6 separate regions of the Homo sapiens genome follow, and regions 1, 3, 4, 5 and 6 are each linked to region 2. The links come from fine-mapping of genetic effects on gene expression. A gene starts in region 2. Each other region holds a variant in brackets. All regions are shown on one strand. Distances are between the middles of the regions. Region 1 overlaps PLPP2 (phospholipid phosphatase 2). Region 2 holds the start of MIER2 (MIER family member 2). Region 3 has its middle 7.6 kb from the start of C2CD4C. Region 4 holds the start of LOC101928344 (a long non-coding RNA gene). Region 5 holds the start of LOC124904605. Region 6 overlaps MIER2 (MIER family member 2).

Region 1 (4,000 bases), 58 kb after region 2:
ATGCTGGAGGATCGCTCCAGCCCAGGAGTTTGTGACCAGCCTGGTCAACATGAGACCCCTGTCTCTACTTTTAAAAATTTAAAAAAAAAAGATATTTTGGGCAGAGAGAAGTGGCTGTGCAAAGGTGGGTGTTTGCTGAGTTAGTTCAAGGAGCAGAAAGGAGGCTGCCAGGATGTGAGGGGCAGAGCGCCTGAGGAGTTTGTGTTTGTCTGAGGGGATGCGAAAGGGAGTGTTATTTGGGCTGTGAAAAAAGCTCTTCCTTGCTGTCTGGTGAGAGTAGAGGTGGGAGGCCTCCAGGCCAAGGCAGGTGTGTGGGGCCCCAAGGCCCAGCTGGTGAGAGAACCTCACAGCTCCCAGGCTTTTCTTCCCCACCAGCCTCCCTGCCCTTCGCTATCCTGACGCTGGTGAACGCCCCGTACAAGCGAGGATTTTACTGCGGGGATGACTCCATCCGGTACCCCTACCGTCCAGATACCATCACCCACGGGCTCATGGCTGGGGTCACCATCACGGCCACCGTCATCCTTGTAAGGCAGGAGGGGCTCAGAGGGACTGGGTAGGGGGATGGGGTGGGGCCAGCTTTACCCTGGGGGCCTGATGGGGGGGTGGCACAGCCCTGCCCTGGAGGTCTGTGTGGGGCCGGGGGACACAGCCTTGCCCTGAGTGGTACCTGTGGGTAATAGGGCCCCCTTCAGAGTCCCCAGCTCTCCAGCAGCCTTGGGGAGGCCCGTGCGGAGGAGTGAGGGCCCCTGGGCCGACCGAGACCCCCACTGGTTCCTGCGGCTGCTCTTGCAGGTCTCGGCCGGGGAAGCCTACCTGGTGTACACAGACCGGCTCTATTCTCGCTCGGACTTCAACAACTACGTGGCTGCTGTATACAAGGTGCTGGGGACCTTCCTGTTTGGGGCTGCCGTGAGCCAGTCTCTGACAGACCTGGCCAAGTACATGATTGGGCGTCTGAGGCCCAACTTCCTAGCCGTCTGCGACCCCGACTGGAGCCGGGTCAACTGCTCGGTCTATGTGCAGCTGGAGAAGGTGTGCAGGGGAAACCCTGCTGATGTCACCGAGGCCAGGTGGGTGTGGACCAGCAGCCTTCACTCTTGTGGGGAATGGGAGCTGAAGAAGGCCCTGGAGCCAAATCATGAAGAGCCAGCAGGCAGCTGAGACTACAGGCGTGCGCCACCACGCCCGGCTAATTTTTGTATAAGTTAGTGCATTCTTGTATGTTTTTGAAGTTCATCCATGTTGTAACATTCTGTCAGTTTTTGCTTTAAGTATTTTGGGGTTCTGTTGTTTAGTACATTTACCTTTGTAATTGTTATATATTTTTGAAAGATTGACCATTTCATCATCATAGAATGAGATATATGAGTTTTGTCTCAACAATTTTTGTCTTGATGTCTGTTTTGTCTGATATTAACATAGCTATTCTGGTTCTCTTTTTGTTATTGTTTGCATGGAATATTTTTTTTTTCCATTCTTGGACTTTCAACCTGTTTATGTCTCTGACTGTAAAGTAAGTGTCTTATACCTAGCATGAAATTGGGCCATGTTTCTTAATGTATTGTCCAATCTCTGATTTTTTTTGAGACAGAGGCTCACTCTGTCACCCAGGCTGGAGTGCAATGATCTGAGCTCACTGCAGCCTCGGACTCCCAGGCTCAAGCCATCTTCCCACCTGAGCCTCCCGAGTAGCTAGGACTACAGGAACGTGCCACCACATCCAGCTACTGTTTATTTTTTTTTTGGTAGAAACGGGGTTTTGCCATATTGCCCAGGCTGGTCTTGAACTCCTGAGCTCAAGCGATCCGCCCACTTTGGCCTCCTAAAGTGCTGGGATTACAGGTGTATGCCACCACATCCAGCCAGATCTCTGACTTTTTTTTTAATGTTTTTTAAATTATATATTAATCTTTTTATTGAATTAAGGCATTTAATGAAACTTTGACTTTTAATTGGAGTGTTTATTTATATTCAATGTAATTACTGATAAGGAAGGACCTCTGTCATTTCGTTGAGGTTTGCTTAGGTTATATCTTCTTTTTTCAATTCCTCATTACTGTCTTTTTTTGTTTGTTTGTTTTGCTTTTAATTTTTTTTTTCTTTTAGAGATGG[G/A]GGTCTTGCTATCTTGCCCAGGACTTGAACTCCTGGGCTCAAACCATCCTCCCACCTCTGCCTTCCAAGTAGCTGGTACTACGGGCATACACCACCAAATCCAGCTGGTTTTTAAATTTTTTTGTAGAAATAGGGTCTCACCATGTTGCCCAGGCTGGTCTCGAATGCCTGGGCTCAAGCAATCCTCTCGCCTCAGCCTCCCAAAGTGCTGGGATTAGAGGTGTGAGCCACTGAGCCCGTTCAGGGTAAATAATCTTTTTTTTTTTTCTTTTTTTTTTTTGAGACAGAGTCTGGGCCCAGGCTGGAGTGCGGTGGTGCAATCTTGGCTCACTGCAACCTCCATCTCCTGGGTTCAAGTGCTTCTCCTGCCTCAGCCTCCCCAGTAGCTGGGATTACAGGTGTGCGCCACCACGCCCGGCTAATTTTTGTATTTTCATTTACTTTTATTAATTTTATTTTTTGAGACAGAATGTTGTTCTGTCACCCAGGCTGGAGTGCAGTGTGCAGTGGTGTGATCTTGGCTCACTGCAACCTCTGCCTCCTGGGTTCAAGCGATTCTCCTACCTCAGATTCCTGAGTAGCTAGGACTACAGGCGTGCACCACCACGCCCGACTAACTTTTTGTATTTTTAGTAGAGATGGGGTTTCATCATGTTGGCCAGGCTGGTCTCGAACTCCTGATCTCAGGTGATCCACCCACCCTGGCCTCCCAAAGTGCTGGGATTACAGGCGTGAGCCACCATGCCTGGCCAGGCTGAATAATCTTTTTTTTTTTTCTTTTTTTCGGCCAGGCTGAATAATGTTTTTTTTCTCCTTTTCTTTTTTTTTTTTTTGAGAAAGAGTCTCACTGTGTCGCCCAGGCTGGAGTGCGGTGACGTGATCTTGTCTCACTACAGCCTCTGCCTCCTCGGTTTAAGCAATTCTCCTGCCTCAGCCTCCTGAGTAGCAGGCGTGAGCCACCACACCTGGCCCCAGCCGAATAATCTTTTTTTTTTTCTTTGAAACGAAGTCTCTCTCTTGTCCCCCAGGCTGGAGAGCAGTGGCACGATCTCGGCTCACTGTAACCTCTGCCTCCCGGGTTCAAGAGATTCTCTGCCTCAGCCTGCCGAGTAACTGGGATTACAAGTGTGTACCACTATGCCCAGCTAATTTTTTGTATTAAGTAGAGACGGGGTTTCACCATGTTGGCTAGGCTGGTCTCGAACTCCTGACCTCAGGTGATCCACCCGCCTCGGCCTCCCAAAGTGCTGGGATTACAGGCTGAGCCACCGTGCCAGGCCAAATAATCTTAATTGACCTATTTTCTTTGTTTTTTTGAGTTGGAGTCTTGCTCTGTCTCCCAGGCTGGAGTGCAGTGGCATAATCTCAGCTCACTGCAACCTCTGCCTCCTGGGTTCAAGCGATTCTCCTGCCTCAGCCTCACGAGTAGCTGGGATTACAGGCGTGTGCCTCTGCGCCCAGCTAATTTTTGTATTTTTAGTAGAGACGGGGTTTCGCCATGTTGGCCAGGCTGGTCTCGAACTCCCGACCTTTGTGATCTGCCCGTCTCTGCCTCCCAAAGTGCTGGGATGACAGGTGTGAGCCGCTGTGCCCGGCCAATTGACCTATTTTCAAGTTCATTGTCTTTTTTCTTCTGCTTCCTCAGACCTGCTATTGAGCCTCCCTCAAGTGATTTTTCATTTCAGATAACCAAATCTTTATTTGGTTCCTTTTTATAACTTCTTTCTCTTTATTGATATTCTCTGTTTGGTGAGACATTGTTCTCATATTCCTTTGGCTCTTTGAACATAGTATTTATTTATTTTTACTTTTTTCTTTGAACATATTTTAAATGGCTAACTAAAAGTGTTTGTCTAGAACCCAGGCTTGGTGGCACACAACTGTT
Region 2 (4,867 bases):
GTAGATATGGGTTGTGCATTGCTGGCTGGATTCAGTGATGCCGTGTCCTGCTTTGGACACCACATCCAGGTGCACATGGTGTGCACCTGCCCTTTACCAGGGATGCTGAGTTTTATCACCCACCCAACAAGTGGCTTCATTTCTCCACTGCGACTAACAGTCTACGGAGACAGACTTTCAGACCTTAAAATATCCTTCACTCTTTTTTTTTTTTTTTTTTGAGACAGGTCTCACTCTGTTGCCCAGGCTGGGGTGCAGTGGCACAATCACTGCTTACCGCAGCCTCGACCTCCTGGGCTCAAGAGATCCTCCCACTTCGGCCTCCAGAGTAGCTGGGACTACAGGCACATTATCGTCATGCCCTCTAATGTTTAAAGTTTTTTTTTTTTTTTTTTGAAACAGTGTCTCACTCTGTTTCCCAGGCTGGAGTGCAGTGATCTTAGCTCACTGCAACCTCTGCCTTCCCAGGTTCAAGTGATTCTCTTGCCTTAGCCTCCACAGAATAGCTGGGATTATGGGCACTCGCCACCACGCCCGGATAATTTTTGTATTTTTAGTAGAGACAGGGTTTCACCCTGTTGCCCAGGCTGGTCTCAAACTCCTGACCTCAAGTGATCCTCCTGCCTCTGCCTCCCCAAGTGTTAGGATTAGAGGTGTGAGTCACCGTTCCAAGCCACAATACCCTTCTCTTCACCCAAGTCCTCATTTGACATCTATGTGATGATTCTTGCCAAGCCCTCTCCTAAGAGTCTTCCCTCGTTTTGCCAGGTGGACTCAAGCCCTTGTCTTCGGGCCCCTCCACCTGTTACAGCACAGCACCTCACTCTCTTATCTGTTCATGCTTCTCCCTGCTTCACAGGACCTCTGGCTACCCAGCACCCAGTTGAGGACTGCATAAGATATGTGTTTAGTTCACTGAATGACTGAATGAATAATAACAAATGAATAATAAAGGAAGGAACCAACTCTTGCACAAATCAGTGAGGACTCTTCAACACGAGGGCCAGAACCCTCAATCTCAATGATGTAAACCAAAAAAGGAGTGAGGGTAGACCCCTCCAGAGTGGTTCTTCTATCTCTTGGTTGGTGAATTCTCAGAGGACTGAGTAATGATTTTGCATCAGGAATCAAGGCTGATGCATGTCAAGTTCTCACTATTCATTGGCTGATCACTGGGAAACAGGAATGAGACTCATTCTCTTCTTCCTGGTCCCCAATTCCCTTCCTCCTGGTCCCCAATTCCCTTCTTCCTGGTCTCCAGTTCTCTTCTTCCTGGTCTCAGTAGGAACCGCCCTCCACTCATTTGCGCAAGCCAGACATCTGGAGGCCATCCTTCACTCTCTCCAGCTTCCCTCCATCAGCGAGTCTTGTGGTGTCCACCTTCTCAAGTCTCTCTGCACTCTGGTCCAGGCCCCACAGCTCCCACCTGGCCCCTGCCTCTTCACGCCCCACCCCTGCTTCCTATCCTCTCTCTGCATCGTGCGCCCCGAAGATTCACGGCACTTATCCGTCTCAAATTTAAGGTGTGGCGAGTCCTTGCCTTCCCATCCTCCACTCTAAACGCCCTGAAGACAGGCGTTAGGGCTGTCTCCTTCAAACCCTCAGGATCAGAACGTGCACGTGTTCCAGAAATGTTCAATCTGCGAAACGACGGACTGCAGAACCAAATGGCCCTGGGGTCAAGCCCACCTCCCTGCCTCCCGCCTTGGGCTCTCCGGCGCGGGGCCACCGTTTCTAAAACCTCTCCGACTGGTGCGCGTTCGCAAGCTCCCCGATTGGTTCCTCCGCGCGCTAGTTTGCTCATCACGGGTGCGAAAGTGCAGAAAATTCCAGAACCACGCAGCCCGGACACCAATTCTGGCTCTATCACTGACACTCTGGGTGGCCCGTCGCCCTGGGCCTCAGTTTCCTAGTCTGCCACGCGGGGTATTAACAGCGAGCAGCCGAGGGAATGAAGAGGTCACACAGGACCACGTGGTCCCCACGCAGGTGTGATTATCAGGAATTCGTATTTTTATGGAATGCAGTCTCCTCCGCCAAGGCCAAGGCCAAGATCAGGGTCCAGCAGAGACGGCCGGAAAGACACCGCAAGCTCGCCAGAAGCCGCCGGCCACGCTCGGCTGCGCGCCCGCGCCCGCGCCCGCGCACCTACTACGCGCCCGGCCCGCTCTCCGCCCCCTCCAGGCTCCGCCCCCTGCCCCGCCCTCCAGGCTCCACAGCCAATGAGTGCGCGGCCCCTCATCCGGGGATCCCGGCGCGGCCACCGCCTCCCGCGCACACACGGCCATGGCGGAGGTGAGTGAGCGGGCCGGGGGAGCCGGCCCCCCGCCCCCGCGCGTCCGCGCCCCCCGCCGCCGTGGCTCGGCCTCGTCGTGGGCCCCAGGGACGGAGAGCCCCGCTCTGGAGCTCTGAGGCCGGCCGGGGCGCCTGGCCCGTCCGGGGCCGGAGGGGCGCGGGGCTCCATCGGCGGCCGCCCCCGGCCGGCCCCCACCCCCCAACTCCCCCGGCTGCCACATCGCGGGCTGCAGTGCGCATGCGCGGCGGCGCGGGGCGGGCGGGGGCCGGGGTGGGGGAGGGGAGGGACGCGGGGCGGGGCTGGTGTCGGGGGTCCGGTGGGCGCGCGGCTCCGTTCCAGGGTCCGGCTCCGGTTCCCGGCCCCGGCCCGGGCCCCGCGGCGCGCAGGCCTCCCCTCCCGCGCCTTTGCCAACTTTGCCGAGTGCTGGGGCCGCCAGGCGCCCCGCGCTCCCCATCGGGATCCCGGTGGACCCACCGCGCCTCCGCCGCCCGCGAGCCCCCCGGCGGGGCTGGGTCAGACCCCGGGCGGGATTTGAACTCCCGACGCGGACCCGCCTGGCGCGAACTGGGCGCAGGGTGGGTGGGTCTGCCGGGGCCTAGAGAGCGTCGGGGCTGATCTCAGAAGAGTTGGACCAGCCTCTCCCGGGCACGAAGTTACTTCTGGAGCCTCCTCCCTCGTCCAGGAAACAAGCCCGGGACCCTTTATCTGAAATGTTTGGGACCAGCTATATTTTGGAATCCAGAATTTTTCCAATTTGAGGATCTGTGGGATTTTGGACTGTGATGTTTGATCAAACCCACCTAGGACTGTCTAGGATAAGACAACAGATAGCTTCGTGTCAGGTCAAACCAGGAAGGAAGAAACTTTCGCTTTTGAAGCTTTTTTTGATTTTGGAGTGGTGGATGAGCCTGTGTGGACTTGCTTTCACCTTGGAGGGCCCTGGTGAAGATGGAAAGAGATAATGTAGGTGAAGGTGCGGCGGCTGCGAGGTGCTCAGTCAGTGGGACTCAGTGCATGACTTCTGTGCGCAGAAGTTACGACAGGCGGGCAGACTCAAGAGCTGATCCTATCTCTGGGATAGAGCCCAAAGGAAAAGGTGCCCACCCAGCCAGGCACAGCCGCCTCGTGGGAAGCCGGGATTGGAACTGCGGCCTGGCCGTGGTGCCACGTTGCGTGTTTATGTCTTGGGCGTTGTGGGAGGCAGGACTGGCCATTCTCTCCCCCTGGTGACGACCTCAGGGGCAGTAACAGGCCCTGTGTTTATGCCAAAGACGGTGTAGGTGTCTCGATACTAGGCCAGACCACCGGCCAGTTCCTTCATCGAGAATTAGTTCTTCTTGAGACGCTTAGGGAGACTGAGTCCCCATGCAGATGGTGGCTGTCCTCCAGGGTCGGAGGCAGAAGCCGCGTCTCCCAGTGGCCCTGCAGCGACGTGGTGGTCGAATGAGTTGTGCTCCTGGAATCTGGGCAACACACGTGGCCTGACAGGTAGCTCTGTGTCTGGGATGGCACAAGTCAGACTCCCAAGCCAGCCTCCCCCAGAGCTGCCATGTGGCTGTTCTGCCCTGCTCTAGGCTGAGCTCCGTAAATGTGCACAGCAGCTTGTGGTCCGGCTGCTCCTGTTAACCCTGTTTTACACTTTGGGGTGGTGCCCTGTTGAGTGAATTTGATTTGATTTTCTAAGGAGGTCCCGCTCTGTCCTCGGCCTGAGGATCTGGGAGTGAATGGAGCAGACAGGGCCTCTCCTACAGGGATGCAGAGTCTGGTCAGAGAGAGACGTGGGTGGGTTAGGACCAACAAGTATGAGGTGCTGAGCGTGAGGAGCCATGGCAAGCTGTCTGACCACCGGACTTGTTCTGTGTGGTCTTGGGCAGGTTGCCCAGTGACTCAGAACTTCCTTTTCCTCATCTCTGAAATGGGAAGTTTAATGGTCACCCTTCAGAGCTAGGAGGTCTGATGAGGTCCTGCCACAACGGCTTGTACATGGAAGTTGAATCTTGTGAAGTTGACGATATTCCACTGTTTTTAACCCGTAAAAGTGGCAATTTGTAACTTTATAGCACGTGATCAGTACTAGCTACTTTATTCTGTATCAGTATCCCAGAATAATCATAAGCACCACAGTGGCAGACGGGAATGCTTCATACTTTTCTCAGGCATACTAGATTGATCTTTTAAAAACCTAAGAGCACCATCTTTTGCTCCTACCTAAAACCCTCCATGGCTTTTCATGGTCCCTGGGATAAAATGCTCCTCCTTGCTGAGTCCCACAGCCCTGTGAGGTGGTCCCCACGGATCTGCCCCCTACTCTAGGGCCCTGGGCTCCTGTTTGCTGGTGCACTCTACCCATTTGGGGGCTGCCAACGATGGTTCCACCTCGACTGAGGCCCCCCAGGCCTTCCCTGACCCGCAGTTGCAGAGCCCGTGCGCCCTGTTTTCTCTTCTCGGTACCATACATGTCCACTTGTTTGTTGTCTGTGTCCAAAACTAGCAACTCCATGTGGGTGGAGGCAGGTGGAACTTGTTTCTCAGGTTAACCACCACGCCACTGCCTTGCTGAGCCCAGAGTGG
Region 3 (4,867 bases), 57 kb before region 2:
GGGCAGGACCCCGTCCCCCCCTCACACCCCTCGGGGCAGGACCCGTCCCTGTGCTCTCAGCCCAGGCTGGGCTGCTCTGTCTCTCCTGCTGCCCATGGGGTCCAGATGTCTCTGCCATCTCAAATCCACCAGGAGCTTTTGGGAATTGGGGTTCAGCGTAGCCCGGCCTCCTGACCGCGGCCTGGTGAGCCCCAGTCAGGGCCTGGGACGGGTTGACAGGGCTACGGGCGCCTTGTAGCCTCTTCAGCCCCAGCCACTCATCGCTAGGCTGCACGGGTGTGTGCGTGTGCGTGCCAGGTAGGTGCACACACGTCGCCATGTGCTTCCGCATGTGTGTGCAGTGTGACTGCGTGTGCCGTTACCGTGCTCATCTGTTGGGCGTATGTGACAGTGCCAGGTGAGCGCCTGCAGGCACTCGAGTATAGCTGCCTGTGTGCTGGCGTGTGCACGTGTAAGCACGTGAGCCGTGTATGCATGTGTGACCCTGTGTGCGCTTGTGTGTGCCTGTGTCGCTGCTGGTGTGCACTTGTGTGTGCGTTTGTGTGTGCTGGTGTCTGGGAGCTGCAGCTGCCCATGCCCTCCCCCCTCCACTTCCAAGTGGGCGTCATCCAGGGATTCTGCGCCTGCGTGGTGTCTCGCCCTGCCTCAGGTCTTGGCCCACTGCCCTTCAGGTCAGCCCCCACCCCGGGGGAGTCAGATGCCCTTGTTCCCTCCTGGCTGTGGCCGTTTGCTGCCTTGTGATGTTGATCCTGAGCAGAACGAATCTACTGTTTGCACCTCCAGCATCCCTGGCGCCACAGAGCGCTCGGCCCCAGTGGGTGCTGTGCGGTGAAGGAGGCAGGCACACCTGCCAGCAGTCTCTCCTTTCAGACTGGCGGCCATCCTGAGTCTCCCGACCCTCAGGAAGGCCATGGGCACCACAAGCGGGGGGCACCCCGTTTGGTGCAAATTACAAAAAGATGCCCCTTCTTCAGAGGGGAGCCATCATAGGGAACAACAGATGAAGAGTCAGAAGCCTGGAGACATTGCGGACACCTGGATCCAGCTATGCCTGAAGTCCATAACTGCGCACCATTTCAGCTCAGAGGGTGGGCCGGTAAAGTGCCTTGTTTGCTCAAGCCGGCTTGTTTCAGTTTTTTTGTTTTGTTTTGTTTGTTTGTTTTTTGGAGACGGAGTCTTGCTGTGTCGCCCAGGCTGGAGTACAGAGGTGCAGTCTCGGCTCACTGTAGCCTCTTCTTCCAGGGTTCAAGCGATTCTCCTGCCCCAGCCTCCCAAATAGCTGAGATTACAGGCGCCCGCCACCACACCCAGCTAGTTTTTTGTATTTTTAGTAGAGACGGGGTTTCACCAAGTTGGCCAGGCTCGTCTCAAATTCCTGACCTCAGGTGATACGCCTGCCTCGGCCTCCCAAAGTGCTGGGATTACAGGCGTCAGCCACCACGTCCGGCTGATTCATTTTTTAAGGTGACAGAACACTGATCCAGTGGGTCTCTCCCATCCGAGGAGGAGGAGTAACACCTTCCCAGGGCCCCTGCCTTGCGGCCTGTCCTCTCTGGGGCCTTGAACCTCTAACCCTGACGTGTGTGGGGAGCCGCAGGGTGAGTTTCAAGCCCCACCTTCCACGTGGGGTGTGGCCCGGGGCAGTGCGTGGCTTCTCTGGGTCTCAGGCTCCCGAGGCCGAAGGCTCTGTCTGTGATGAGCCCTGGCGGCTTGTGTGCAGTAGAGCTCAATCCACAGGCTCGCCGGGCGGAAGCCGGCACAAAATAGCGACGATAATTAATATAATCACATCAGGGCCATAATTACAGGCGGCCTCAGACCCACCCAGGCGGGGGCTCCCTCGGCCTCTCTCTGCGGCACCCACCGCCCCAGTGCCGGATTCGATTAAGCTTTTGTTTTCTTCTCAGCTCCTGGGGGTGGGAGGGAGGGGCTGCCCACGGCCAGTTCCGCTGACAGGAGGAGAAAAATGACTTCAATAAAAAGGAGGAGGCGGACGCCGACCCGCACACATGCTCCTCCCACGAGGGCGGGCCATTCCCGCGGGCCGGCGCCTGAGCCTCAGTTTACCCTACTGTACAGTGACGTGGTCCCAGAGCCTCTCTCCAGGGTCACACGCAGGGCAGGGCCTGTTGATTAAGCGCATCGTGGGTGGGTGGGCGGGAGGACCCGCTGAATCCTCAGCAAGACGCTGCCTACTGCCATCCACAGATGGAAACACCGAGGCACAGAAGGCAAAGGGGCCTGCGCACACCTCCCAGCTGACAGGACAGGAATTCGGACCAGGGCTGGACCCACGCTGCCCTTCCTGGGTGGGACTGGACACCTGCTTGCATGGCCGGCCCCTGCCATCTGGCAGAGAGGGCCCCAGGGAGCTGTGCTCTGCCAGCCATGGGTCAGAATCCTGACAAGTCCCTCCGTTCTCTGTGACTCGGTTTCCTCTGCAGCACCCTGTACCCTCCCTGCCTGCTGGTGGGGCTGGAGTGGGCACGGACCCAGCACCCGTGGCACCCAGTCCTGGTCACCGGCTGAGCCCTGCTGCGGTGCCACGGATGAGACCCGCACCTTCCCCCGTGGGGTGAGGAATCCTCTC[G/A]TGCGGGGTGAGGTCTGGGCTTTGCCTTGGCTTTGGGAGGTGATTTCTGCCCTGCCTGAGGGGAGCGTCTTGGTCTGGGGTAGGGAGGGTCACACCAGCAAGACCAACCGTGGGACTTGGGAGCGCCTTGGGTCTCACAGCGTCAGACACCCTTGGAGTTCGAGGGCAACCCCGTGGCAAGCAATCAGTCAATCAAGCCCCCACGAGGGATCCCTCGCAGAGCTCTGGGCGCCTAGGCTGCCGTGCCCTTTCCTGGTGGTCCGTGCGCCCTGTGAGTGAGCAGTTCCCGGCTTCCCCGGACAGGACCACGGGGCTTCTCCGGGACGCTGCCTCATGTGCTCTTCCCCAGCCCACGGCACCTGCACCCCGGCACTGTGACAAACCCTACCTGTGACGAGGACAGCTTGCTGGGAGTTCCGTGCGTCCTCGCAAATCATCAAGCGTGAGGGTGAGCCTGGGAACCCCTGGAAGAGTGAGGGTGAGCCTGGGAACCCCTGGAAGAGTGAGGGTGGGCCTGGGGACCCCTGGAAGAGTGAGGGTGGGCCTGGGAACCCTGGAAGAGTGAGGGTGGGCCTGGGAACCCTGGAAGAGTGAGGGTGGGCCTGGGAACCGCTGGAAGAGTGAGGGTGGGCCTGGGGACCCCTGGAAGAGTGAGGGTGGGCCTGGGGACCCCTGGAAGAGTGAGGGTGGGCCTGGGAACCCTGGAAGAGTGAGGGTGGGCCTGGGAACCCCTGCAAGAGTGAGGGTGGGCCTGGGAACCCCTGCAAGAGTGAGGGTGGGCCTGGGAACCCTGGAAGAGTGAGGGTGGGCCTGGGAACCCTGGAAGAGTGAGGGTGGGCCTGGGAACCCTGGAAGAGTGAGGGTGGGCCTGGGGACCCCTGGAAGAGTGAGGGTGGGCCTGGGGACCCCTGGAAGAGTGAGGGTGGGCCTGGGGACCCCTGGAAGAGTGAGGGTGGGCCTGGGAACCCCTGCAAGAGTGAGGGTGGGCCTGGGAACCCCTGGAAGAGTGAGGGTGGGCCTGGGGACCCCTGGAAGAGTGAGGGTGGGCCTGGGAACCCTGGAAGAGTGAGGGTGGGCCTGGGAACCCTGGAAGAGTGAGGGTGGGCCTGGGGACCCCTGGAAGAGTGAGGGTGGGCCTGGGGACCCCTGGAAGAGTGAGGGTGGGCCTGGGGACCCCTGGAAGAGTGAGGGTGGGCCTGGGAACCCCTGCAAGAGTGAGGGTGGGCCTGGGAACCCCTGGAAGAGTGAGGGTGGGCCTGGGGACCCCTGGAAGAGTGAGGGTGGGCCTGGGAACCCTGGAAGAGTGAGGGTGGGCCTGGGAACCCTGGAAGAGTGAGGGTGGGCCTGGGAACCCTGGAAGAGTGAGGGTGGGCCTGGGAACCCTGGAAGAGTGAGGGTGGGCCTGGGAACCCTGGAAGAGTGAGGGTGGGCCTGGGAACCCTGGAAGAGTGAGGGTGGGCCTGGGGACCCCTGGAAGAGTGAGGGTGGGCCTGGGGACCCCTGGAAGAGTGAGGGTGGGCCTGGGGACCCCTGGAAGAGTGAGGGTGGGCCTGGGAACCCCTGCAAGAGTGAGGGTGGGCCTGGGAACCCCTGGAAGAGTGAGGGTGGGCCTGGGGACCCCTGGAAGAGTGAGGGTGGGCCTGGGAACCCTGGAAGAGTGAGAGTGGGCCTGGGAACCCTGGAAGAGTGAGGGTGGGCCTGGGAACCCTGGAAGAGTGAGGGTGGGCCTGGGGACCCCTGCAAGAGTGAGGGTGGGCCTGGGAACCCCTGGGCTGCCGTTGGGGCTGGAACGGGGGCACTGTTGTTGGGACACTGCCCTCTGACCTTTCAGCGTGGTTCACTCCAATCCCCGGGCCACAGAGTCCTCGTGGCCTCCCTGGGAGTGTGCACCTGCCCGGCCGTGGAGACACATGACCCTTGCCCCCAAGCTCCCCTCTCACCTCCCTAACCCCTTTGCCTGTGGCCCAGGCGGCTCAGAGGCACCCCCCCGCCCACCAGCCACTGTGTCCCCACCCTCCCCTCCCACCTGGGCTCCCCCAGCCAAGCCACAGAATGCTCCTTCCTCATCTCCCAAAGTCACGGGGACAGCTCAGATCAAGGACTGCAGCTCCCACACTGCCAGCCCCTCCCCCTCTCTGAGCCTCAGTTTCCTCCTGTGTAAGTGAGGTGCCCAGTGCACACTGCCCTCTAGGCTTCAGGTGATGGCAACATTGAGCTTTCAAAGCACTCACGCATAAACCTCATTCAGACCACGGGCCACTGTAGGTCAAAGGTGCG
Region 4 (4,867 bases), 99 kb after region 2:
TTGTAAAGTTTTCATCTACATGCATATGATTTCTTATGGTTTCCAATTAATAATTCCCTCACTATTTTTGGGAAAGACACAGGATAGTGGGCTCTGTTAGAGTAGATAGCTAGCTAGACATGAACAGGAGGGGGAGCTCCTGGAAAAGGGAAAGTCTGTGAAGGCTCACCTGGAGGGACCACCAAAAATGCACATATTAGTAGCATCTCCAGTGCTGGAGAGGATGGGCACTTGTCAATTGTGGTTAGGAGGGAGAAGAGGTACCTACGCAGAAACACCCTAGAACTTCTCTTAAGATGCCCCAATCATCATTCACTCTGCAATAAAAATGTCAGAATATTGCTAGCTACATGCTGATAAGAAGGACAAAGGGGACATTCCTAAGAGAAACCTGGCACCATAAGTACAGATTAGGGCAGAGAAAGACATTCAAAAGAGGCAGGTGCAGTAGATACAAACGTGACTGCTGTCAGCCTGCCTGGGATGGCAGGAAGGAGGTTGGTGCCAGAGTGGATTCAGATTCATCACCCCACGTGTACCTCAATCAACAGGAGGTCCCACAAGCCTAAGTGGGGCAAGTCAGGGACCTAAGGCAGTAGCAGGAAAACCAAGGAAAACAAGCATAGACTTGAGACAGAGGCAGGAATGTGAAGAAGTCCAAAATAAAATTCCCTGCACAGGACTCTTAGGCTGTTTTCATGCACTATGAACCCACTCCTCCCTATTTTCCTACAATAAGCTCTTTACACTGTATTTCTTTTCAATGAAGTTATCTTCCATCTTTGTACTGCCTCTTGGTGAAAATCTTTCTTCCAAGTTAATAACTGGGACATCAGCTCTCCCCAGTAATAGCTCCTTTTCAGTTTTAATTTACAGAACTGATGGGGATTAATAACTGGCGCTCTGACTTTAAGTGGTGCAGGAGGCGGCCAGTAGGGGACGCCAGCCGTCACACCGGGAGCAAGAGGGCCCTGCCTAGTCCCCATCTGCCTGCAGGTGGCGTGCAGCCACGACAGTGTCAGCAAGAGGGCCCGGCAGTGTCCCTAGCTGCCAGCAGGGGGCGAACGACGACTACACTGTGAGCAAGAGGGCCCTGCAGTGTCCTTAGCTGCCAGGAGGTGGCGTAGGGGCACCACACCATGAGCAAGAGGACCGTGAAGTGCCCTGGTTGCCAGCAGGGGGCGTGCTGCCACTACACTGTGAGCAAGAGGATCCTGTAGTGCCCCCAGCGGACAGAAGAGGGCATGCCCCGACTACACTGCAAGCAAGAGGGCCCAGCAGTGTCCCCAGCTGCCAGCAGGCGGGTGTGCTGCCACTACAATGTGAGCAAGAGGGCCCTGCAATGTCCCTAGCTGCCAGCAGGCGGCGTGCCGCCAGTATACTGCGAGCAAGAGAGCCCTGCCGTGCCCCGGCACCGGCAGGGGGCGCTGGACACCACTGTAAGGAAGAGGGCCCTGCAGTTGCCCTAGTCGCCAGCAGGGGGCGCAATGGCACAGCACCGTGGGCAAGCGGGTCCTGTAGTGCCCGGGTACAAGCAGGGGGCACCCGAACCGGGCTTTTCAGATTACTCAGGTTCCACCCGTCTGTGCGCCGCGCCGCCGGGGACGTGTGTCTGCGCCTGCACCTCGCCATTCCCGCGCTCCCCGCCCAGCGGCGTGCGACTGTACACCTGCAACACGCCCCGCCACCCTGAGCCCAGCGACGTGCGTCTCTGCGCCTGCACCTGCGCCGCGCCTCACTCCCGCCCGCCCAGAGACCCCTCCCCTCCGGGGACGCGGAGGCGTGCGTCTATGCCCTGCGCCGCGTCTCCCGAACAGCGCCTGCGCGGGCGCGCCGCGCCTGCCTGCGCCGGCGCCGGCGCGCCGTGCCTTTGCGAGAGCGGAGTTGGGTTCTCCTCAGCACAGACGCGGAGAGCATCGCGAGGGCGGAGCTGCGTTCTCATCTGCACAGATTTCAGTGGTACTGCGAAGGCGGAGCAGAGTTCTCCTCAGGTCAGACCCGGGCGGGCGGGCTGAGGGCACCGCGAGGGCGGAGCTGCGTTCTGCTTAGCACAGACCTGGGGGACACCGTAAAGGTGGAGCAGCATTCTCCTAAGCACAGACGTTGGGGGCACTGCCTGGCTTTGGGACAACTCGGGGCCGCATCGACGGTGAATTAAATCTTTCCCGGTTGCAGCCGTGAATAATCAAGGGCAGAGACCAGTTAGAACGGTTCAGTGTGGAAAACGGGAAACCAAAAGCCCCTCTGAATCCTGCGCACCGAGATTCTCCCAAGGCAAGGCGAGGGGCTGCATTGCAGGGTCCAGTTGCAGCGTTGGAATACAAATGCAGCATTCCTAAGGCACACATGACACCCAAAATATAACACCCACATTGCTCATGTGGTTTAGGGTTAGGGTGAGGGTTAGGGGTTAGGGGTTAGGGTTAGGGGATTAGGGGTTAGGGGTTAGGGTTGGGGTTGGGGTTGGAGTAGGGTTAGGGTTAGGGGTTAGGGTTAGGGGTTAGGGTTAGGGTTCGGGTTCGGGCTAGGGGTAGGGTTAGGGTTAGGGGTTAGGGTTTAGGGTTAGGGGTCGGGGTCAGGGTCAGGGTCAGGGTCAGGGGTTGGGGTTGGGGTTGGGTTTAGGGTTGGGGTTATGGGGTTAGGGGTTAGGGTTAGGGATAGGGGTTAGGGGTTAAGGTTAGGGTTAGGGTTAGGGGTTAGGGTTAGGAGTTAGGGGTTAGGGTTAGGTTTAGGGGCTAGGGTCAGGTTTGGGTTAGGGTTGGGTTAGGGTTAGGGTTGGGTTAGGGTTAGGGTTTGGGTTAGGATTAGGGTTAGGGGTTAGGGTTAGGATTAGGGGTTAGAGTTAGGGTTACGGTACTGTAAATAATTTTATATTATTACTAATAATAAATTATTATTTGTATTACACTGTTACATAATGTAAACCCTATTAAGACATGTTTTTCTTCAAAGAATGGCCTTGGTTTCTGTGGGCTGTGCCTCCTCATGGAAGGGTAATGCATTCCTGCTAAATCATGGACAAAACGGGCTTCCAGGAGCTACAG[A/G]CTGCAGCAGCAGCTTCTCCTCTACGTCCTTCACTGCCTCAAACTGTTGTTGACTTTGAAAGCTTCTTTCAGTCTAGTTTTATCAACAGAGCTAGTATTTCATGAGGTTCTACTACATACCAGGTTCCAGAAAGCTAAATGCCTTTTGTTTGTTATTATTCACTAAATACAAATCACAACTCTCTCCTCATTACTCACACAACAAAATTTAGCTGAGGGAGATTGAGTGACTTTCCCAGGGTCACATAGCTACTAAGAGCAGAGTCGTGTTCAGATTCATGTGGGAATATTGAACACAGAAATGAACCAGTGGAAACATCCTATGTTCCAAAAGCCTACTCAAGGCCTTTCTTCTTATTTTAAGGAAAATCTTTATGCTAATTTTAAACTCCAAATACTTATGAATGGCAGAGATCTACAGATTTGATTCTGATGTAAGAAATGATGGTCACCAGCCAGTTACTGCTACCACCCCACAACCCCGAGCATACTGGACGAATGTCTAAGCCTTGTGGTTAGTGGGGACAATGCTGGTGGAGTCTGAAGTTGTCATGCAGTGACTCATGCAAGCTTAGGCAGATTTGGTGATATATGACACAGAGATGCAAAGAAATGTTGTAGCTGACACACACAGGCTGGCTCTGGGAGATGCAGAAGGAGCACGTCACCCAAAATAGAGCCAGACAAGACATCCTTAAGGAAGGAGCAAAAGGGCTGCATCTTAAAGAATGTAGAAAGGATTTGTCATGAGAGATGGGGCAGGAAGTTCTTGAGAGGCAGAGGGAGAGCATGAGAATGTTAGGAAGGGAGGAGAGATTCTCACACATCTGGGAAGCTGACAATCCATCAGCATGGCCAGAAGGAAAATGAGGAGGAGCAGAAATAGATGAGGCTGGATATAGAAGCAGGGCTGAAGCGGTGTTGATTGTGGTAAAGAGTTGTGATTCTATCCAGAACTCAATAGGTAGCATTCTAAACAGAGATCTTTTAAACAAGAGTCAGCAAGTATTTTCTGCAAGGGGCTAAATGTTAAATATTTTAAGTTTTCCAAGCCATATGGTCTCTCTCTCAATGACTCAGCTCTTCCATTATACCATGAAAATAGCCAGAGACATTATGTAACACATGTATTGGCTGTGTCCCATTACAACTTTACTTACAAACGCAGACTGTGTCAGACATGGTCCATGCATGGTAGTTTGCCACACCCTGTTTTAGAAAGCTCAGGTTTATGATGTGATGGAGAATGCCTACAAGAGCTCTTGTTTTAAATGGTAGAGTGAACATACACTGGAATTCTATCCTGCTTGACCCAAGCTCTTGATAGCGAAAGGTAGAAAAGATAGATGGTAAATAGATAGATAGATGATAGATAAAGAAAATACATAGCTGTTCCAGAAAACAGAAATGGATAACTTCATGAACCAAAAGCAGAGTAATATACTTTAGAAAGGAAGCGGGCCGGAAAACCCACAGTTGCAAAACAAATAGAATTTCCAACTGCCTCTTGTAGCCCCTTCCTGGAAGTAGTCACAGCCCAGGGTGTTCGACTTCTTCCTCTGTTTTTTGTTTGTTTGTTGTTTGCTTTTCTGTGGGGTTTTTGTTGTTGTTGTTTGCTTTTAAAAAAAAATTCCCTTTCCCTGCTTTTTTGTCACAGCAGCCTTTGTCACTTCAAACACCGCAAGTGTTCTTTAAAAAAAATTATATCAACCTTTCAATTAAAATGCAACATGTCTGAAACTTGGTATCTGGAGAGGTGAGTTGGACAAAGGAGCCCTTGTTACTGCACGTTTTCATTCTTCAAATTTCACCTTGCACACAGT
Region 5 (4,867 bases), 39 kb after region 2:
TTAAAGATGTGGGTTGTGACCCACTGTTGGTCTGATGAACTAAAATCTACTTCTAAAGCTGAGACCCTTAACCTGGGGCTCGCGGATTTCAGTGTAACTGGTGTCTTTTGTATTTGTGTGGAGGCTTTTCTGGGGAGGGATCCACAGGCTTTGCTGGACCCAGCAAAGTTAGGCAGGAGCCTGCACAGGATCCGCGGCTGTGGGCAGGCCCCACCCTCTGTTGCGTTCTCTTTCACAGATCCACTGAGCGTGGATGGCACGGCCGGTGGTCTCGATGAGCCCGGAGTGGCCTCTGATGGACTCCCGTCCTCGGAGCCAGGGCCGTGTTCCTTCCAGCAGCTGGATGAGTCCCCCGCTGTACCCCTGTCCCATCGGCCCCCAGCCCTGGCCGACCCAGCCTCATACCAGCCAGCTGTCACTGCTCCGGAGCCAGACGCCAGCCCAAGGCTGGCCGTGGACTTCGCCCTGCCCAAGGAGCTGCCCCTCATCTCCAGCCATGTGGACCTCAGCGGGGATCCGGAGGAGACTGTGGCCCCAGCACAGGTGGCTTTGTCGGTCACCGAGTTTGGACTCATCGGCATTGGGGACGTGAACCCCTTCCTGGCCGCCCACCCCACGTGCCCGGCCCCCGGGCTACACTCGGAGCCCCTGTCACAGTGAGTGCCACCCCATGCCCGGAGCCTCCGCAACACTCCAACCAGGTCCCCCCAGCCCTCAGGCTGAGCAGAGGAGGGTGGGAGGCATTTGCCCCAAGGACCCGAGGACAGTGTGGCTCCACGAGCAGGCTCTCAGTGTGTCTTTAGGTTTATTCTTTACTTGTATGTATTTTTTGACTGGAGAATACATTCATGTGGTCCACATTCTCCACAAATGGGAGCAGGTGCCAGGCTGTCCCACCCCTGCTCCAGCCACCAGCTCCCCTCAGGGCACCCCGGGCCCGGCTGCCATAGGCTGTGGGGGAGGCAAGGCTGGGAGTCTCGAGTCCAGCGCTCAGCACTGGGCTGTGCAGGCACGTGGGGCCGCACTGACACTCTCTGCGTCTCTCTTGGTCTCTCCCCTGCAGCTGTAACGTGATGACCTGCTGACTCCTGGCCGCGGGCGGCGTATGCGGCCCAGACTGGACTTAGCGCTGCCGCTGGGCCCGCCTCTGTCAGTCTTCCTGACCCCTTCCCCACCCCCCGGGCCTTGGGGTAGCACCTCCTTCTGCTTCAGAACACGTCAGGACTGGGGTGAGGTGGCTGGGCCGTGAGCCCTTGCCCCTGTCCACACAGAATGGACCCACGGCCCCACCCAGCGCCGTCAGCGCCCGGCACTGCCACCCGGGTCCGGGCCGCTGCCTGCACGTGGGATCCGTCGGGCAGCCGGGGACAGAAGAGACCCCGCCGTTGGGACGCAGGGCAGAGCCGGCCACCTAGTCCCTTCCAGCCAGCAGAGGCGAGGGAAGGCGTCACTGCCCCGGCGGGGAGACGGGCAGGACGCCCTGCCCCGCACCAGCAGCCTCCGCCGGGGCGCCCTCAGCTCCCTGCTTGGCTCTGTCTCTCCACACCCGGCAGGGCCGCGGGCTGCCCCAGCCCTGGGGGTCGTGGGCAGCTGCTACTCAGTGCCAACCCCGTGGGGCACAGAGCCATATACCTCGCTGTCCGGCCCCCACCCCAGCCTCGCCTTCCCACCCCATCGTCTCCACTTCAGGAAAAGCCGCACTTTACACCCCCACCTGCCTCTTCCCCCTCCATCCCTGCTCCCCGATCCTGAGCGGTTGGGGTGGGGTCCCTCAGCAACCCCAGGCGTGGGTTTGAGGAGACAGGTGATTTACATCCCCTTTGCTGTCCTCCCCCGGTACCAAGGCAGGGAGCCTCCGGAGGAGCCGGCCCTGCTGGCCACGCAGGGGCCAGACTCCAGCCTGTTTCCCCAGCCCTGCAGGTCTTCCTTCTGTGGGAAGCTTCCTAGCAAGATGGCTTGGAGTCCTGGTCCCCCTCCTCCCTGGCCCTCTCGTTCGTTTCTGTTTCTGTTTACACGTTGGAGTGGGGTCCTCCGTGGGCGGCGGCGCGCCCTGCCCCGGGTGTCGTCCGGCCTCTTGTGCTCGAGCCCCTTTCCGAGTTGGACTCGACCATCCCTCACCCCACCAAGGACCACACTGTGAAGTGATAACTGCCTTGAACCCCCCTTTGCTGTTTTATTTATTAAACTTGATTTGAAGCCCGGGGTGCCTTGTGGTGGATCGGGTGGGGGCTGGGGCGGCAGGTGTCCTCGTCATCTCACTTGGGGGCCTGCATGTCTCTTGGAGGGTCCAGGATAAGTCGTGAGCAACACGGGCGAGGGGGTGCACCGGGGGCATGACGTGGTGGGCTACGTATTGTTCACGTCAGTAAGGGAATTGTGGCCACGATGACGGGATGTGAGGAGGGCCCACGTCTGGGTAGAGGTGGTCGGGGCAGCCTCCTAGAAGTGATATTTAAGCTGAAACATGAAGGAGAATGGGCCTCCTTTGCTGAAAGTTTGCCGAGAGGCCTGGCAGGCGTGACAGCAGATGCAGAGGACAGAGGCCTGGGTCTCCAGGAGAAGCTGAGGGCACAGAGGGCAGAGGTTGGGCGGGGTGGGGACAGTAGGTCATGAGGCCAAGTTTTGTTCTTGGTGTGGAAGCCACTTTAGGTCTGCATTGTTTTTTTGTTTTGTTTTGCTTTTTTTTTTTAGACAGGGTCTCACACTGTCGCCAGGCTGGAGTGCAGTGGTGCGATCTCGGCTCACTGCAACCTCCGCCTCCTGAGTTCACGCG[A/G]TTCTCCTGCCTCAGCCTCCCGAGTAGCTGGGATTACAGGCGCCCGCCACCTGGGATTACGGGCGCCCGCCACCATGCCCAGCTACTTTTTATATTTTTTGTAGAGATGGGGTTTCTCCTTATTGCCCAGGATGGTCTCTATCTCTTGACCTTGTGTTCTCCCGCCTCGGCCTCCCAAAGTGCTGGGATTACAGGCGTGAGACATCGCGCCCGGCTGAGGTCTGCATTGTTAATAGCGCCCTGCAGGGACGGTGCAGGCTGGTTGGGTTGCATATTGTCCACATCAGTGAGGGAAATGTGGGCATGCATGGTGATGGGATATGGGGAGGGCCGGCCCCCAGCTGGGAGGTGACTGTGGCTTGGCCTCAGGGACTATTGGTGAAGGACCAGGACCACTTGCATGATGGGTGTGGGAGAGTCAGGGGTCTTGCTGGTGAGCCTGTGCCAGGAGCTGTGAGAACCAGGGCCAGCCACTCGGCAACCTGGGTGTTTGGGGATGGGCATAGAGGAGTTTTCATTGGAGCGCCGCAGCCTGCTGACGTTTTCTTCAGATGTGCAAGGTCTTCTGTCTTCCAGCTTGCCCTGCCTCCAGCAGGAAATCTTCAGTCCTCTCTTGGTTTTTTTCCTCCAACTGCTTTGAAGATTTTTCAGTACCACTGGTTTTGAGCAGTCTGATGAGGATGTGCTTTGGTGTATTGAGGTGTCTGATGAGGGTGTGCTTTGGTGTATTGAGGAGTCTGATGAGAATGTGCTTTGGTGTATTGAGGTGTCTGATGAGGATGTGCTTTGGTGTATTGAGTCTGATGAGGATGTGCTTTGGTGTATTGAGTCTGATGAGGATGTGCTTTGGTGTATTGAGGTGTCTGATGAGAATGTGCTTTGGTGTATTGAGTCTGATGAGGATGTGCTTTGGTGTATTGAGGTGACTGATGAGAATGTGCTTTGGTGTATTGAGGTGTCTGATGAGGGTGTGCTTTGGTGTATTGAGGTGTCTGATGAGGATGTGCTTTGGTGTATTGAGGAGTCTGATGAGGATGTGCTTTGGTGTATTGAGTCCGATGAGGATGTGCTTTGGTGTATTGAGGTGTCTGATGAGAATGTGCTTTGGTGTATTGAGTCTGATGAGAATGTGCTTTGGTGTATTGAGTCTGATGAGGATGTGCTTTGGTGTATTGAGGTGTCTGATGAGAATGTGCTTTGGTGTATTGAGTCTGATGAGGATGTGCTTTGGTGTATTGAGGAGTCTGATGAGGATGTGCTTTGGTGTATTGAGTCTGATGAGGATGTGCTTTGGTGTATTGAGGTGTCTGATGAGAATGTGCTTTGGTGTATTGAGTCTGATGAGAATGTGCTTTGGTGTATTGAGTCTGATGAGGATGTGCTTTGGTGTATTGAGGTGTCTGATGAGAATGTGCTTTGGTGTATTGAGGAGTCTGATGAGGATGTGCTTTGGTGTATTGATGAGGATGTGCTTTGGTGTATTGAGGTGTCTGATGAGGATGTGCTTTGGTGTATTGAGTCTGATGAGAATGTGCTTTGGTGTATTGAGTCTGATGAGAATGTGCTTTGGTGTATTGAGTCTGATGAGGATGTGCTTTGGTGTATTGAGGTGTCTGATGAGAATGTGCTTTGGTGTATTGAGGTGTCTGATGAGGGTGTGCTTTGGTGTATTGAGGAGTCTGATGAGGATGTGCTTTGGTGTATTGAGTCTGATGAGGATGTGCTTTGGTGTATTGAGGTGTCTGATGAGGATGTGCTTTGGTGTATTGAGTCTGATGAGGATGTGCTTTGGTGTATTGAGTCTGAAGAGGATGTGCTGTGGTGTATTGAGGTGTCTGATGAGGATGTACTTTGGTGTATTGAGGTGTCTGATGAGGATGTGCTTTGGTGTATTGAGGAGTCTGATGAGGATGTGCTTTGGTGTATTGAGTCTGATGAGGATGTGCTTTGGTGTATTGAGGTGTCTGATGAGAATGTGCTTTGGTGTATTGAGGAGTCTGATGAGGATGTGCTTTGGTGTATTGAGGAGTCTGATGAGGATGTGCTTTGGTGTATTGAGGAGTCTGATGAGGATGTGCTTTGGTGTATTGAGTC
Region 6 (4,867 bases), 33 kb after region 2:
CGGCCCAGGGCTTGGGAAAGGGAGGACGGACAGTGCCTCCTCCCTGTCAGGGGCTGAGTTGGCTGCTTTGCTTGTCCTGGCGTGTGTGGGTGCAGATTGGGTTCCTGCAAGCTGACCTTTGCCCTCTGCTTGTGCAGTCTACGAGAACGAAGACCAGCTGCTCTGGGACCCCAGCGTCCTCCCTGAGAGGGAGGTGGAGGAGTTCCTGTACAGGGCGGTGAAGCGGCGTTGGCACGAGATGGCCGGGCCTCAGCTCCCAGAGGGAGAAGCCGTGAAAGACAGTGAGCAGGTGGGGGCTGCCATGCCGGGGACAGAGGGGCTGAGGGCTGCCGTGGCGTGGGCCAGAGCTCACACCCCAGTGCCTCCAGGGGCCAGGGAGGGCAGAGGGGAGGGCAGGGGTCAGGTGTGTGGGGGCCAGGGCACTGGAACAGCTACTCAGGTCAGAAGGGGGGCCAATTAAAACCACGTATCAGGGAGGAGGTGTAGACGCCTCCGGGTATCCTGCAAGGGGATGTAGACACCCCTGATGTCACTCCCTGGATAGAGGTGTAGGTGGCCCTGACATCGCCCAGGAGGATGGTGTGGACGGCCCCTGATGCCAGTCCCTGGATAGAGGTGTAGGTGGCTCTGACATCGCCCAGGAGGGTGGTGTGGACGGCCCCTGATGCCAGTCCCTGGATAGAGGTGTAGGTGGCCCTGACATCGCCCAGGAGGGTGGTGTGGACGGCCCCTGATGTCACTCCCTGGATAGAGGTGTAGGTGGCCCTGACATCGCCCAGGAGGGTGGTGTGGACGGCCCCTGATGTCACTCCCTGGATAGAGGTGTAGGTGGCCCTGACATCGCCCAGGAGGGTGGTGTGGACGGCCCCTGATGTCACTCCCTGGATAGAGGTGTAGGTGGCCCTGACATTGCCCAGGAGGGTGGTGTGGACGGCCCCTGATGTCACTCCCTGGATAGAGGTGTAGGTGGCCCTGACATCGCCCAGGAGGGTGGTGTGGACGGCCCCTGATGTCACTCCCTGGATAGAGGTGTAGGTGGCCCTGACATCGCCCAGGAGGGTGGTGTGGACGGCCCCTGATGTCACTCCCTGGATAGAGGTGTAGGTGGCCCTGACATCGCCCAGGAGGGTGGTGTGGACGGCCCCTGATGCCAGTCCCTGGATAGAGGTGTAGGTGGCTCTGACATCGCCCAGGAGGGTGGTGTGGACGGCCCCTGATGTCACTCCCTGGATAGAGGTGTAGGTGGCCCTGACATCGCCCAGGAGGGTGGTGTGGACGGCCCCTGATGTCACTCCCTGGATAGAGGTGTAGGTGGCCCTGACATCGCCCAGGAGGGTGGTGTGGACGGCCCCTGATGTCACTCCCTGGATAGAGGTGTAGGTGGCTCTGACATCGCCCAGGAGGGTGGTGTGGACGGCCCCTGATGCCACTCGCTGGATGGTATAGACAGTTCTTGCTGTCGGCTCCTGCGCTGAGCCCATGGAAGAGCCAACATGTCCTCTCCCCAGGCGCTGTACGAGTTGGTGAAATGCAACTTCAATGTGGAGGAGGCCCTGCGAAGGCTGCGGTTCAACGTGAAGGTGATCCGAGGTGAGCAGCGGTCTGGGCCTTCCTTCCGCTGCGGCCCCGCCCTGGGCACTGCTGACCGTTCTCCCCGGCCTGGGCCTTCCTTCCGCTGCGGCCCCGCCCTGGGCGCCGCTGACCGTTCTCCCCGGCCTGGGCCTTCCTTCCGCTGCGGCCCCGCCCTGGGCGCCGCTGACTGTTCTCCCCGGCCTGGGCCTTCCTTCCGCTGCGGCCCCGCCCTGGGCACCACTGACCGTTCTCCCCGGCCGTGTTTGCAGATGGGCTCTGTGCTTGGAGTGAAGAGGAGTGCAGGAACTTTGAGCACGGCTTCCGTGTGCATGGAAAGAACTTTCACCTGATCCAGGCCAACAAGGTGCGGACTCCACTGCCAGGCTCCACCGGGGGCTTCTCGATCTGGGGAGGGGCTCAGGGTCCGCAGGCACACAGCACACGGCCGACTGGAGGCCTGGAGCCCCGTGTCCTGTGTCCGCCTCCTCACCGTGTGCCCATTGCTGTCTTCTGCATTTTTTGCTACTGACTGCTGTGGGCCCCTTTCCTGTCCCCACAAGAACAAGGCTCTGGCTTTGGGAAAGAATGTGGCAAAAGCTGAATTCTAGTAGTTGTTTCTGCCTCACATTCCACCCCAGGGCCCTGGGCACCTCATCTTCAAGTCTGTGTCCTCTGAGCAGAGCCTGCTGGCTCAGTGTCCAGCATTGGCCCCACAGCAGAACCCCTGACACCTGGAGACCAGGGGTCTCCTGGTTCCCTCCTCCAGGGACCCAGGTCCTGCCACCCGGGACAAACCCTCATGACAGGCAGGTGCTGCCAAGTGCCGGGGCCTTCTGCCCTTCCTTAGACCTTCCCCACGTCCTCTGTGGGTCTCTGCATGTCTGCAGCAGTGCCCTCTGCCCTGTGGCTTCTTGAGTGGTAACTTCCAAGCCAGCCTCTTGGCAGTCAGACATCTCTGGCTGAAAACCTTCCCATGGCTCTGACCAGTGGCTTCTCCGCCTCTGTCCACGCCCCGGTTGGGCACTGAGTCCCTTCAGGACCAGTGGGCTGTGGCCTTGTTGCCGAGCCTTGCTTCTGCCTCGTGTCCTGGGACCGTGCTCCATTTGGGGCCCGATGTCGTCCACTGAAGGGCTTGGGTGAGGAGGCACCTGCCCGGGGCTGGTTGTACGGC[T/C]CAGGACATTGCTCAGGTGACTGTGCGGTGCCGTGCGCAGCAGCGATGGACTGTCCTTGTCAGACTCCAGCACCACGTGGTGTTTTGATTGGAGACAGCGGGGCGAGGTGTGGCTGGAGTGTGGTGCTCCCAGGCTACACTTGGAGCCCCTGTCAAGTTTCTGTAGCTCCGGGCCGTGTTTCTGGAGTTGTGGGCCGTGTTTCTGGACTCCTGGCCGTGTTTCTACAGCTCCAGGCTGTGTTTCTGGACTCTGGGCCGTGTTTCTATGGACTCCGTGTTTCTGTAGCTCCGGGCTGTGTTTCTACAGCTCCGGGCCATGTTCCTATAGCTCCGGGCCGTGTTTCTATAGCTCTGGGCTGTGTTTCTGGAGCTTCGGGCTGTGTTTCTGGACTCTGGGCTGTTTCTATAGCTCCGGGCTGTGTTTCTATAGCTCCCGGCTGTGTTTCTGCAGCTCCCGGCCGTGTTTCTATAGCTCCGGGCCGTGTTTCTGCAGCTCCGGGCCGTGTTTCTATAGCTCAGGGCCGCGTTTTTGTAACTCCCGGCCGTGTTTCTGGAGCTCCGGGCAGGTCCTGGCCCAGCCGCGAGGGGCCGTGTGTAGCCAGCACACGTTGGTCAGCCTGAGCCAGTGCGTATTTCACCCTGGCCCTTCACAGAAGAGCTCCCTCGTGGCGTGCGTTTGAGGTTTGCCCTGCAGGGAGGTTGTCTCGGTCTCGCCCCCAGGCAGGACCCCACGTTGTTCTCGCAGCGGTGAGCATGGGGCATCCTCGTTCTGGGTGGCGGTGGGTTAGTTGGCCCAGAGCATGTCCAGGTGAGGGGGTCTTTTCCGCCATCACCAGCAGTGGCCACAGCCTCAAGCTCTCTGTGGGATGAGCCTCCCGGGTGGAGATGTTGGAGGTGTTGCCAGGTGTGCGCCCAGCTCTGTGCCAGGTGCCACATGGAACACACTTGCTGTGTGTCCCTTCTCGTGTCCCTGAAGCCTTGTGTGCGTGTGTGTGTGTGTCCCTTCTCGTCTCCCTGAAGCCTTGTGTGCGTGTGTGTGTGTGTCCCTTCTCGTCTCCCTGAAGCCTTGTGTGCGTGTGTGTGTCTCTTCTCGTCTCCCTGAAGCCTTGTGTGCGTGTGTGTGTGTGTCCCTTCTCGTGTCCCTGAAGCCTTGTGTGCGTGTGTGTCCCTTCTCGTCTCCCTGAAGCCTTGTGTGCGTGTGTGTGTGTGTCCCTTCTCGTCTCCCTGAAGCCTTGTGTGTGTGTGTGTGTGTCCCTTCTCGTCTCCCTGAAGCCTTGTGTGCGTGTGTGTGTGTCCCTTCTCGTGTCCCTGAAGCCTTGTGTGCGTGTGTGTGTCCCTTCTCGTCTCCCTGAAGCCTTGTGTGTGTGTGTGTGTGTGTGTCCCTTCTCGTCTCCCTGAAGCCTTGTGTGCGTGTGTGTGTCCCTTCTCGTCTCCCTGAAGCCTTGTGTGTGTGTGTGTGTGTGTCCCTTCTCGTCTCCCTGAAGCCTGTGTGCATGTGTGTTTGGCCCTTTATGTGCTACGTTGGGAATTTTGTCGGGTTCACAGAACCCATGTGTCCTTCTGCGGTGTCTTCTGTGCACTTGGGAAGCATTCGCTGGGCCCTGGAGGGATGTGTTCGGTGGGAAAGCAGGCGCCGCGGGCTTGTGCCTCTTCCTCCCGGGGAAGGGGCTCAGTCCAGGAGTCTGTGGACCCGGGGGTTGTCACTCCCACTCCCACCCCGGGCCTGTGAGAAGCAGGCAGATGAGGTGGACGCAACTGGCCCGTGGCTCATGGTCTGGGATGGGGTGGGTGAGCAGTAGACAGAGGCCTGGAGGGTACGTTTGTCTGGCTGATGCTACAGAAGGGAAAGGGGTCTCAAGCCAGGAGCTGGAGGGCTCTGAGGGGGCTTGAAACAGGAGGCAGTGCCACAGTGCTCCGAGCCCCTGTTCCCTGTGGTGGGCATAGCCTGTGGCCTGTTAGGGTCATGGGTCGGGGGGTCTTGCGTTATCTGAGAGTGGTGGGTGCTGTGCTCCTTCTGTGCTGTCCCGGGGTCCCAGGACGTCCTGGGATCGTGGTGCAGGTGCTGGGGCTGGGCAGCCGGGGACAGAGATGGCTCCTGACCCCTCCCCGCAGGTGCGCACACGG

What was found.
Region 1: its variant is fine-mapped to the expression of MIER2 in sun-exposed skin (GTEx, PIP 0.97).
Region 3: its variant is fine-mapped to the expression of MIER2 in thyroid (GTEx, PIP above 0.99).
Region 4: its variant is fine-mapped to the expression of MIER2 in whole blood (INTERVAL, PIP above 0.99).
Region 5: its variant is fine-mapped to the expression of MIER2 in whole blood (INTERVAL, PIP above 0.99).
Region 6: its variant is fine-mapped to the expression of MIER2 in nasal epithelium (TOPMed, PIP 0.91).

Annotation. Positions count from the first base shown.
Region 1 is chr19:284,547-288,546 of GRCh38, reverse strand. PLPP2 (phospholipid phosphatase 2) reads left to right here. Exons shown (of 6, transcript NM_003712.4): 2 at 376-527; 3 at 796-1,073. Among named protein-coding and RNA genes, the nearest start is that of PLPP2, 4.9 kb to the left of the region's middle. RefSeq lists enhancers at 421-920, 921-1,422. The variant G/A (reference allele first, on the strand shown) is at 2,116.
Region 2 is chr19:342,202-347,068 of GRCh38, reverse strand. MIER2 (MIER family member 2) reads left to right here and starts at 2,273. Exons shown (of 14, transcript NM_017550.3): 1 at 2,273-2,295. The coding sequence starts at 2,287. RefSeq lists silencers at 1,929-2,378, 2,449-2,498, 2,799-2,908 and an enhancer at 3,217-4,168.
Region 3 is chr19:399,154-404,020 of GRCh38, reverse strand. No RefSeq gene overlaps it. Among named protein-coding and RNA genes, the nearest start is that of C2CD4C, 7.6 kb to the left of the region's middle. RefSeq lists an enhancer at 4,836-4,867. The variant G/A (reference allele first, on the strand shown) is at 2,591.
Region 4 is chr19:243,521-248,387 of GRCh38, reverse strand. It overlaps LOC101928344 (a long non-coding RNA gene), which reads left to right and starts at 1,863. Exons shown (of 13, transcript XR_002958438.2): 1 at 1,863-1,991. LOC107985295 (a long non-coding RNA gene) reads left to right here and starts at 3,057. Exons shown (of 2, transcript XR_001753827.2): 1 at 3,057-4,867. The variant A/G (reference allele first, on the strand shown) is at 3,045.
Region 5 is chr19:302,908-307,774 of GRCh38, reverse strand. It overlaps MIER2 (MIER family member 2), which reads left to right. Exons shown (of 14, transcript NM_017550.3): 13 at 239-656; 14 at 1,064-2,202. The coding sequence ends at 1,085. It overlaps LOC124904605, which reads left to right and starts at 3,414. Exons shown (of 2, transcript XM_047439789.1): 1 at 3,414-4,382; 2 at 4,449-4,867. The coding sequence starts at 3,414. The variant A/G (reference allele first, on the strand shown) is at 2,774.
Region 6 is chr19:308,914-313,780 of GRCh38, reverse strand. MIER2 (MIER family member 2) reads left to right here. Exons shown (of 14, transcript NM_017550.3): 8 at 138-289; 9 at 1,509-1,590; 10 at 1,842-1,936; 11 at 4,856-4,867. Among named protein-coding and RNA genes, the nearest start is that of PLPP2, 20 kb to the right of the region's middle. The variant T/C (reference allele first, on the strand shown) is at 2,744.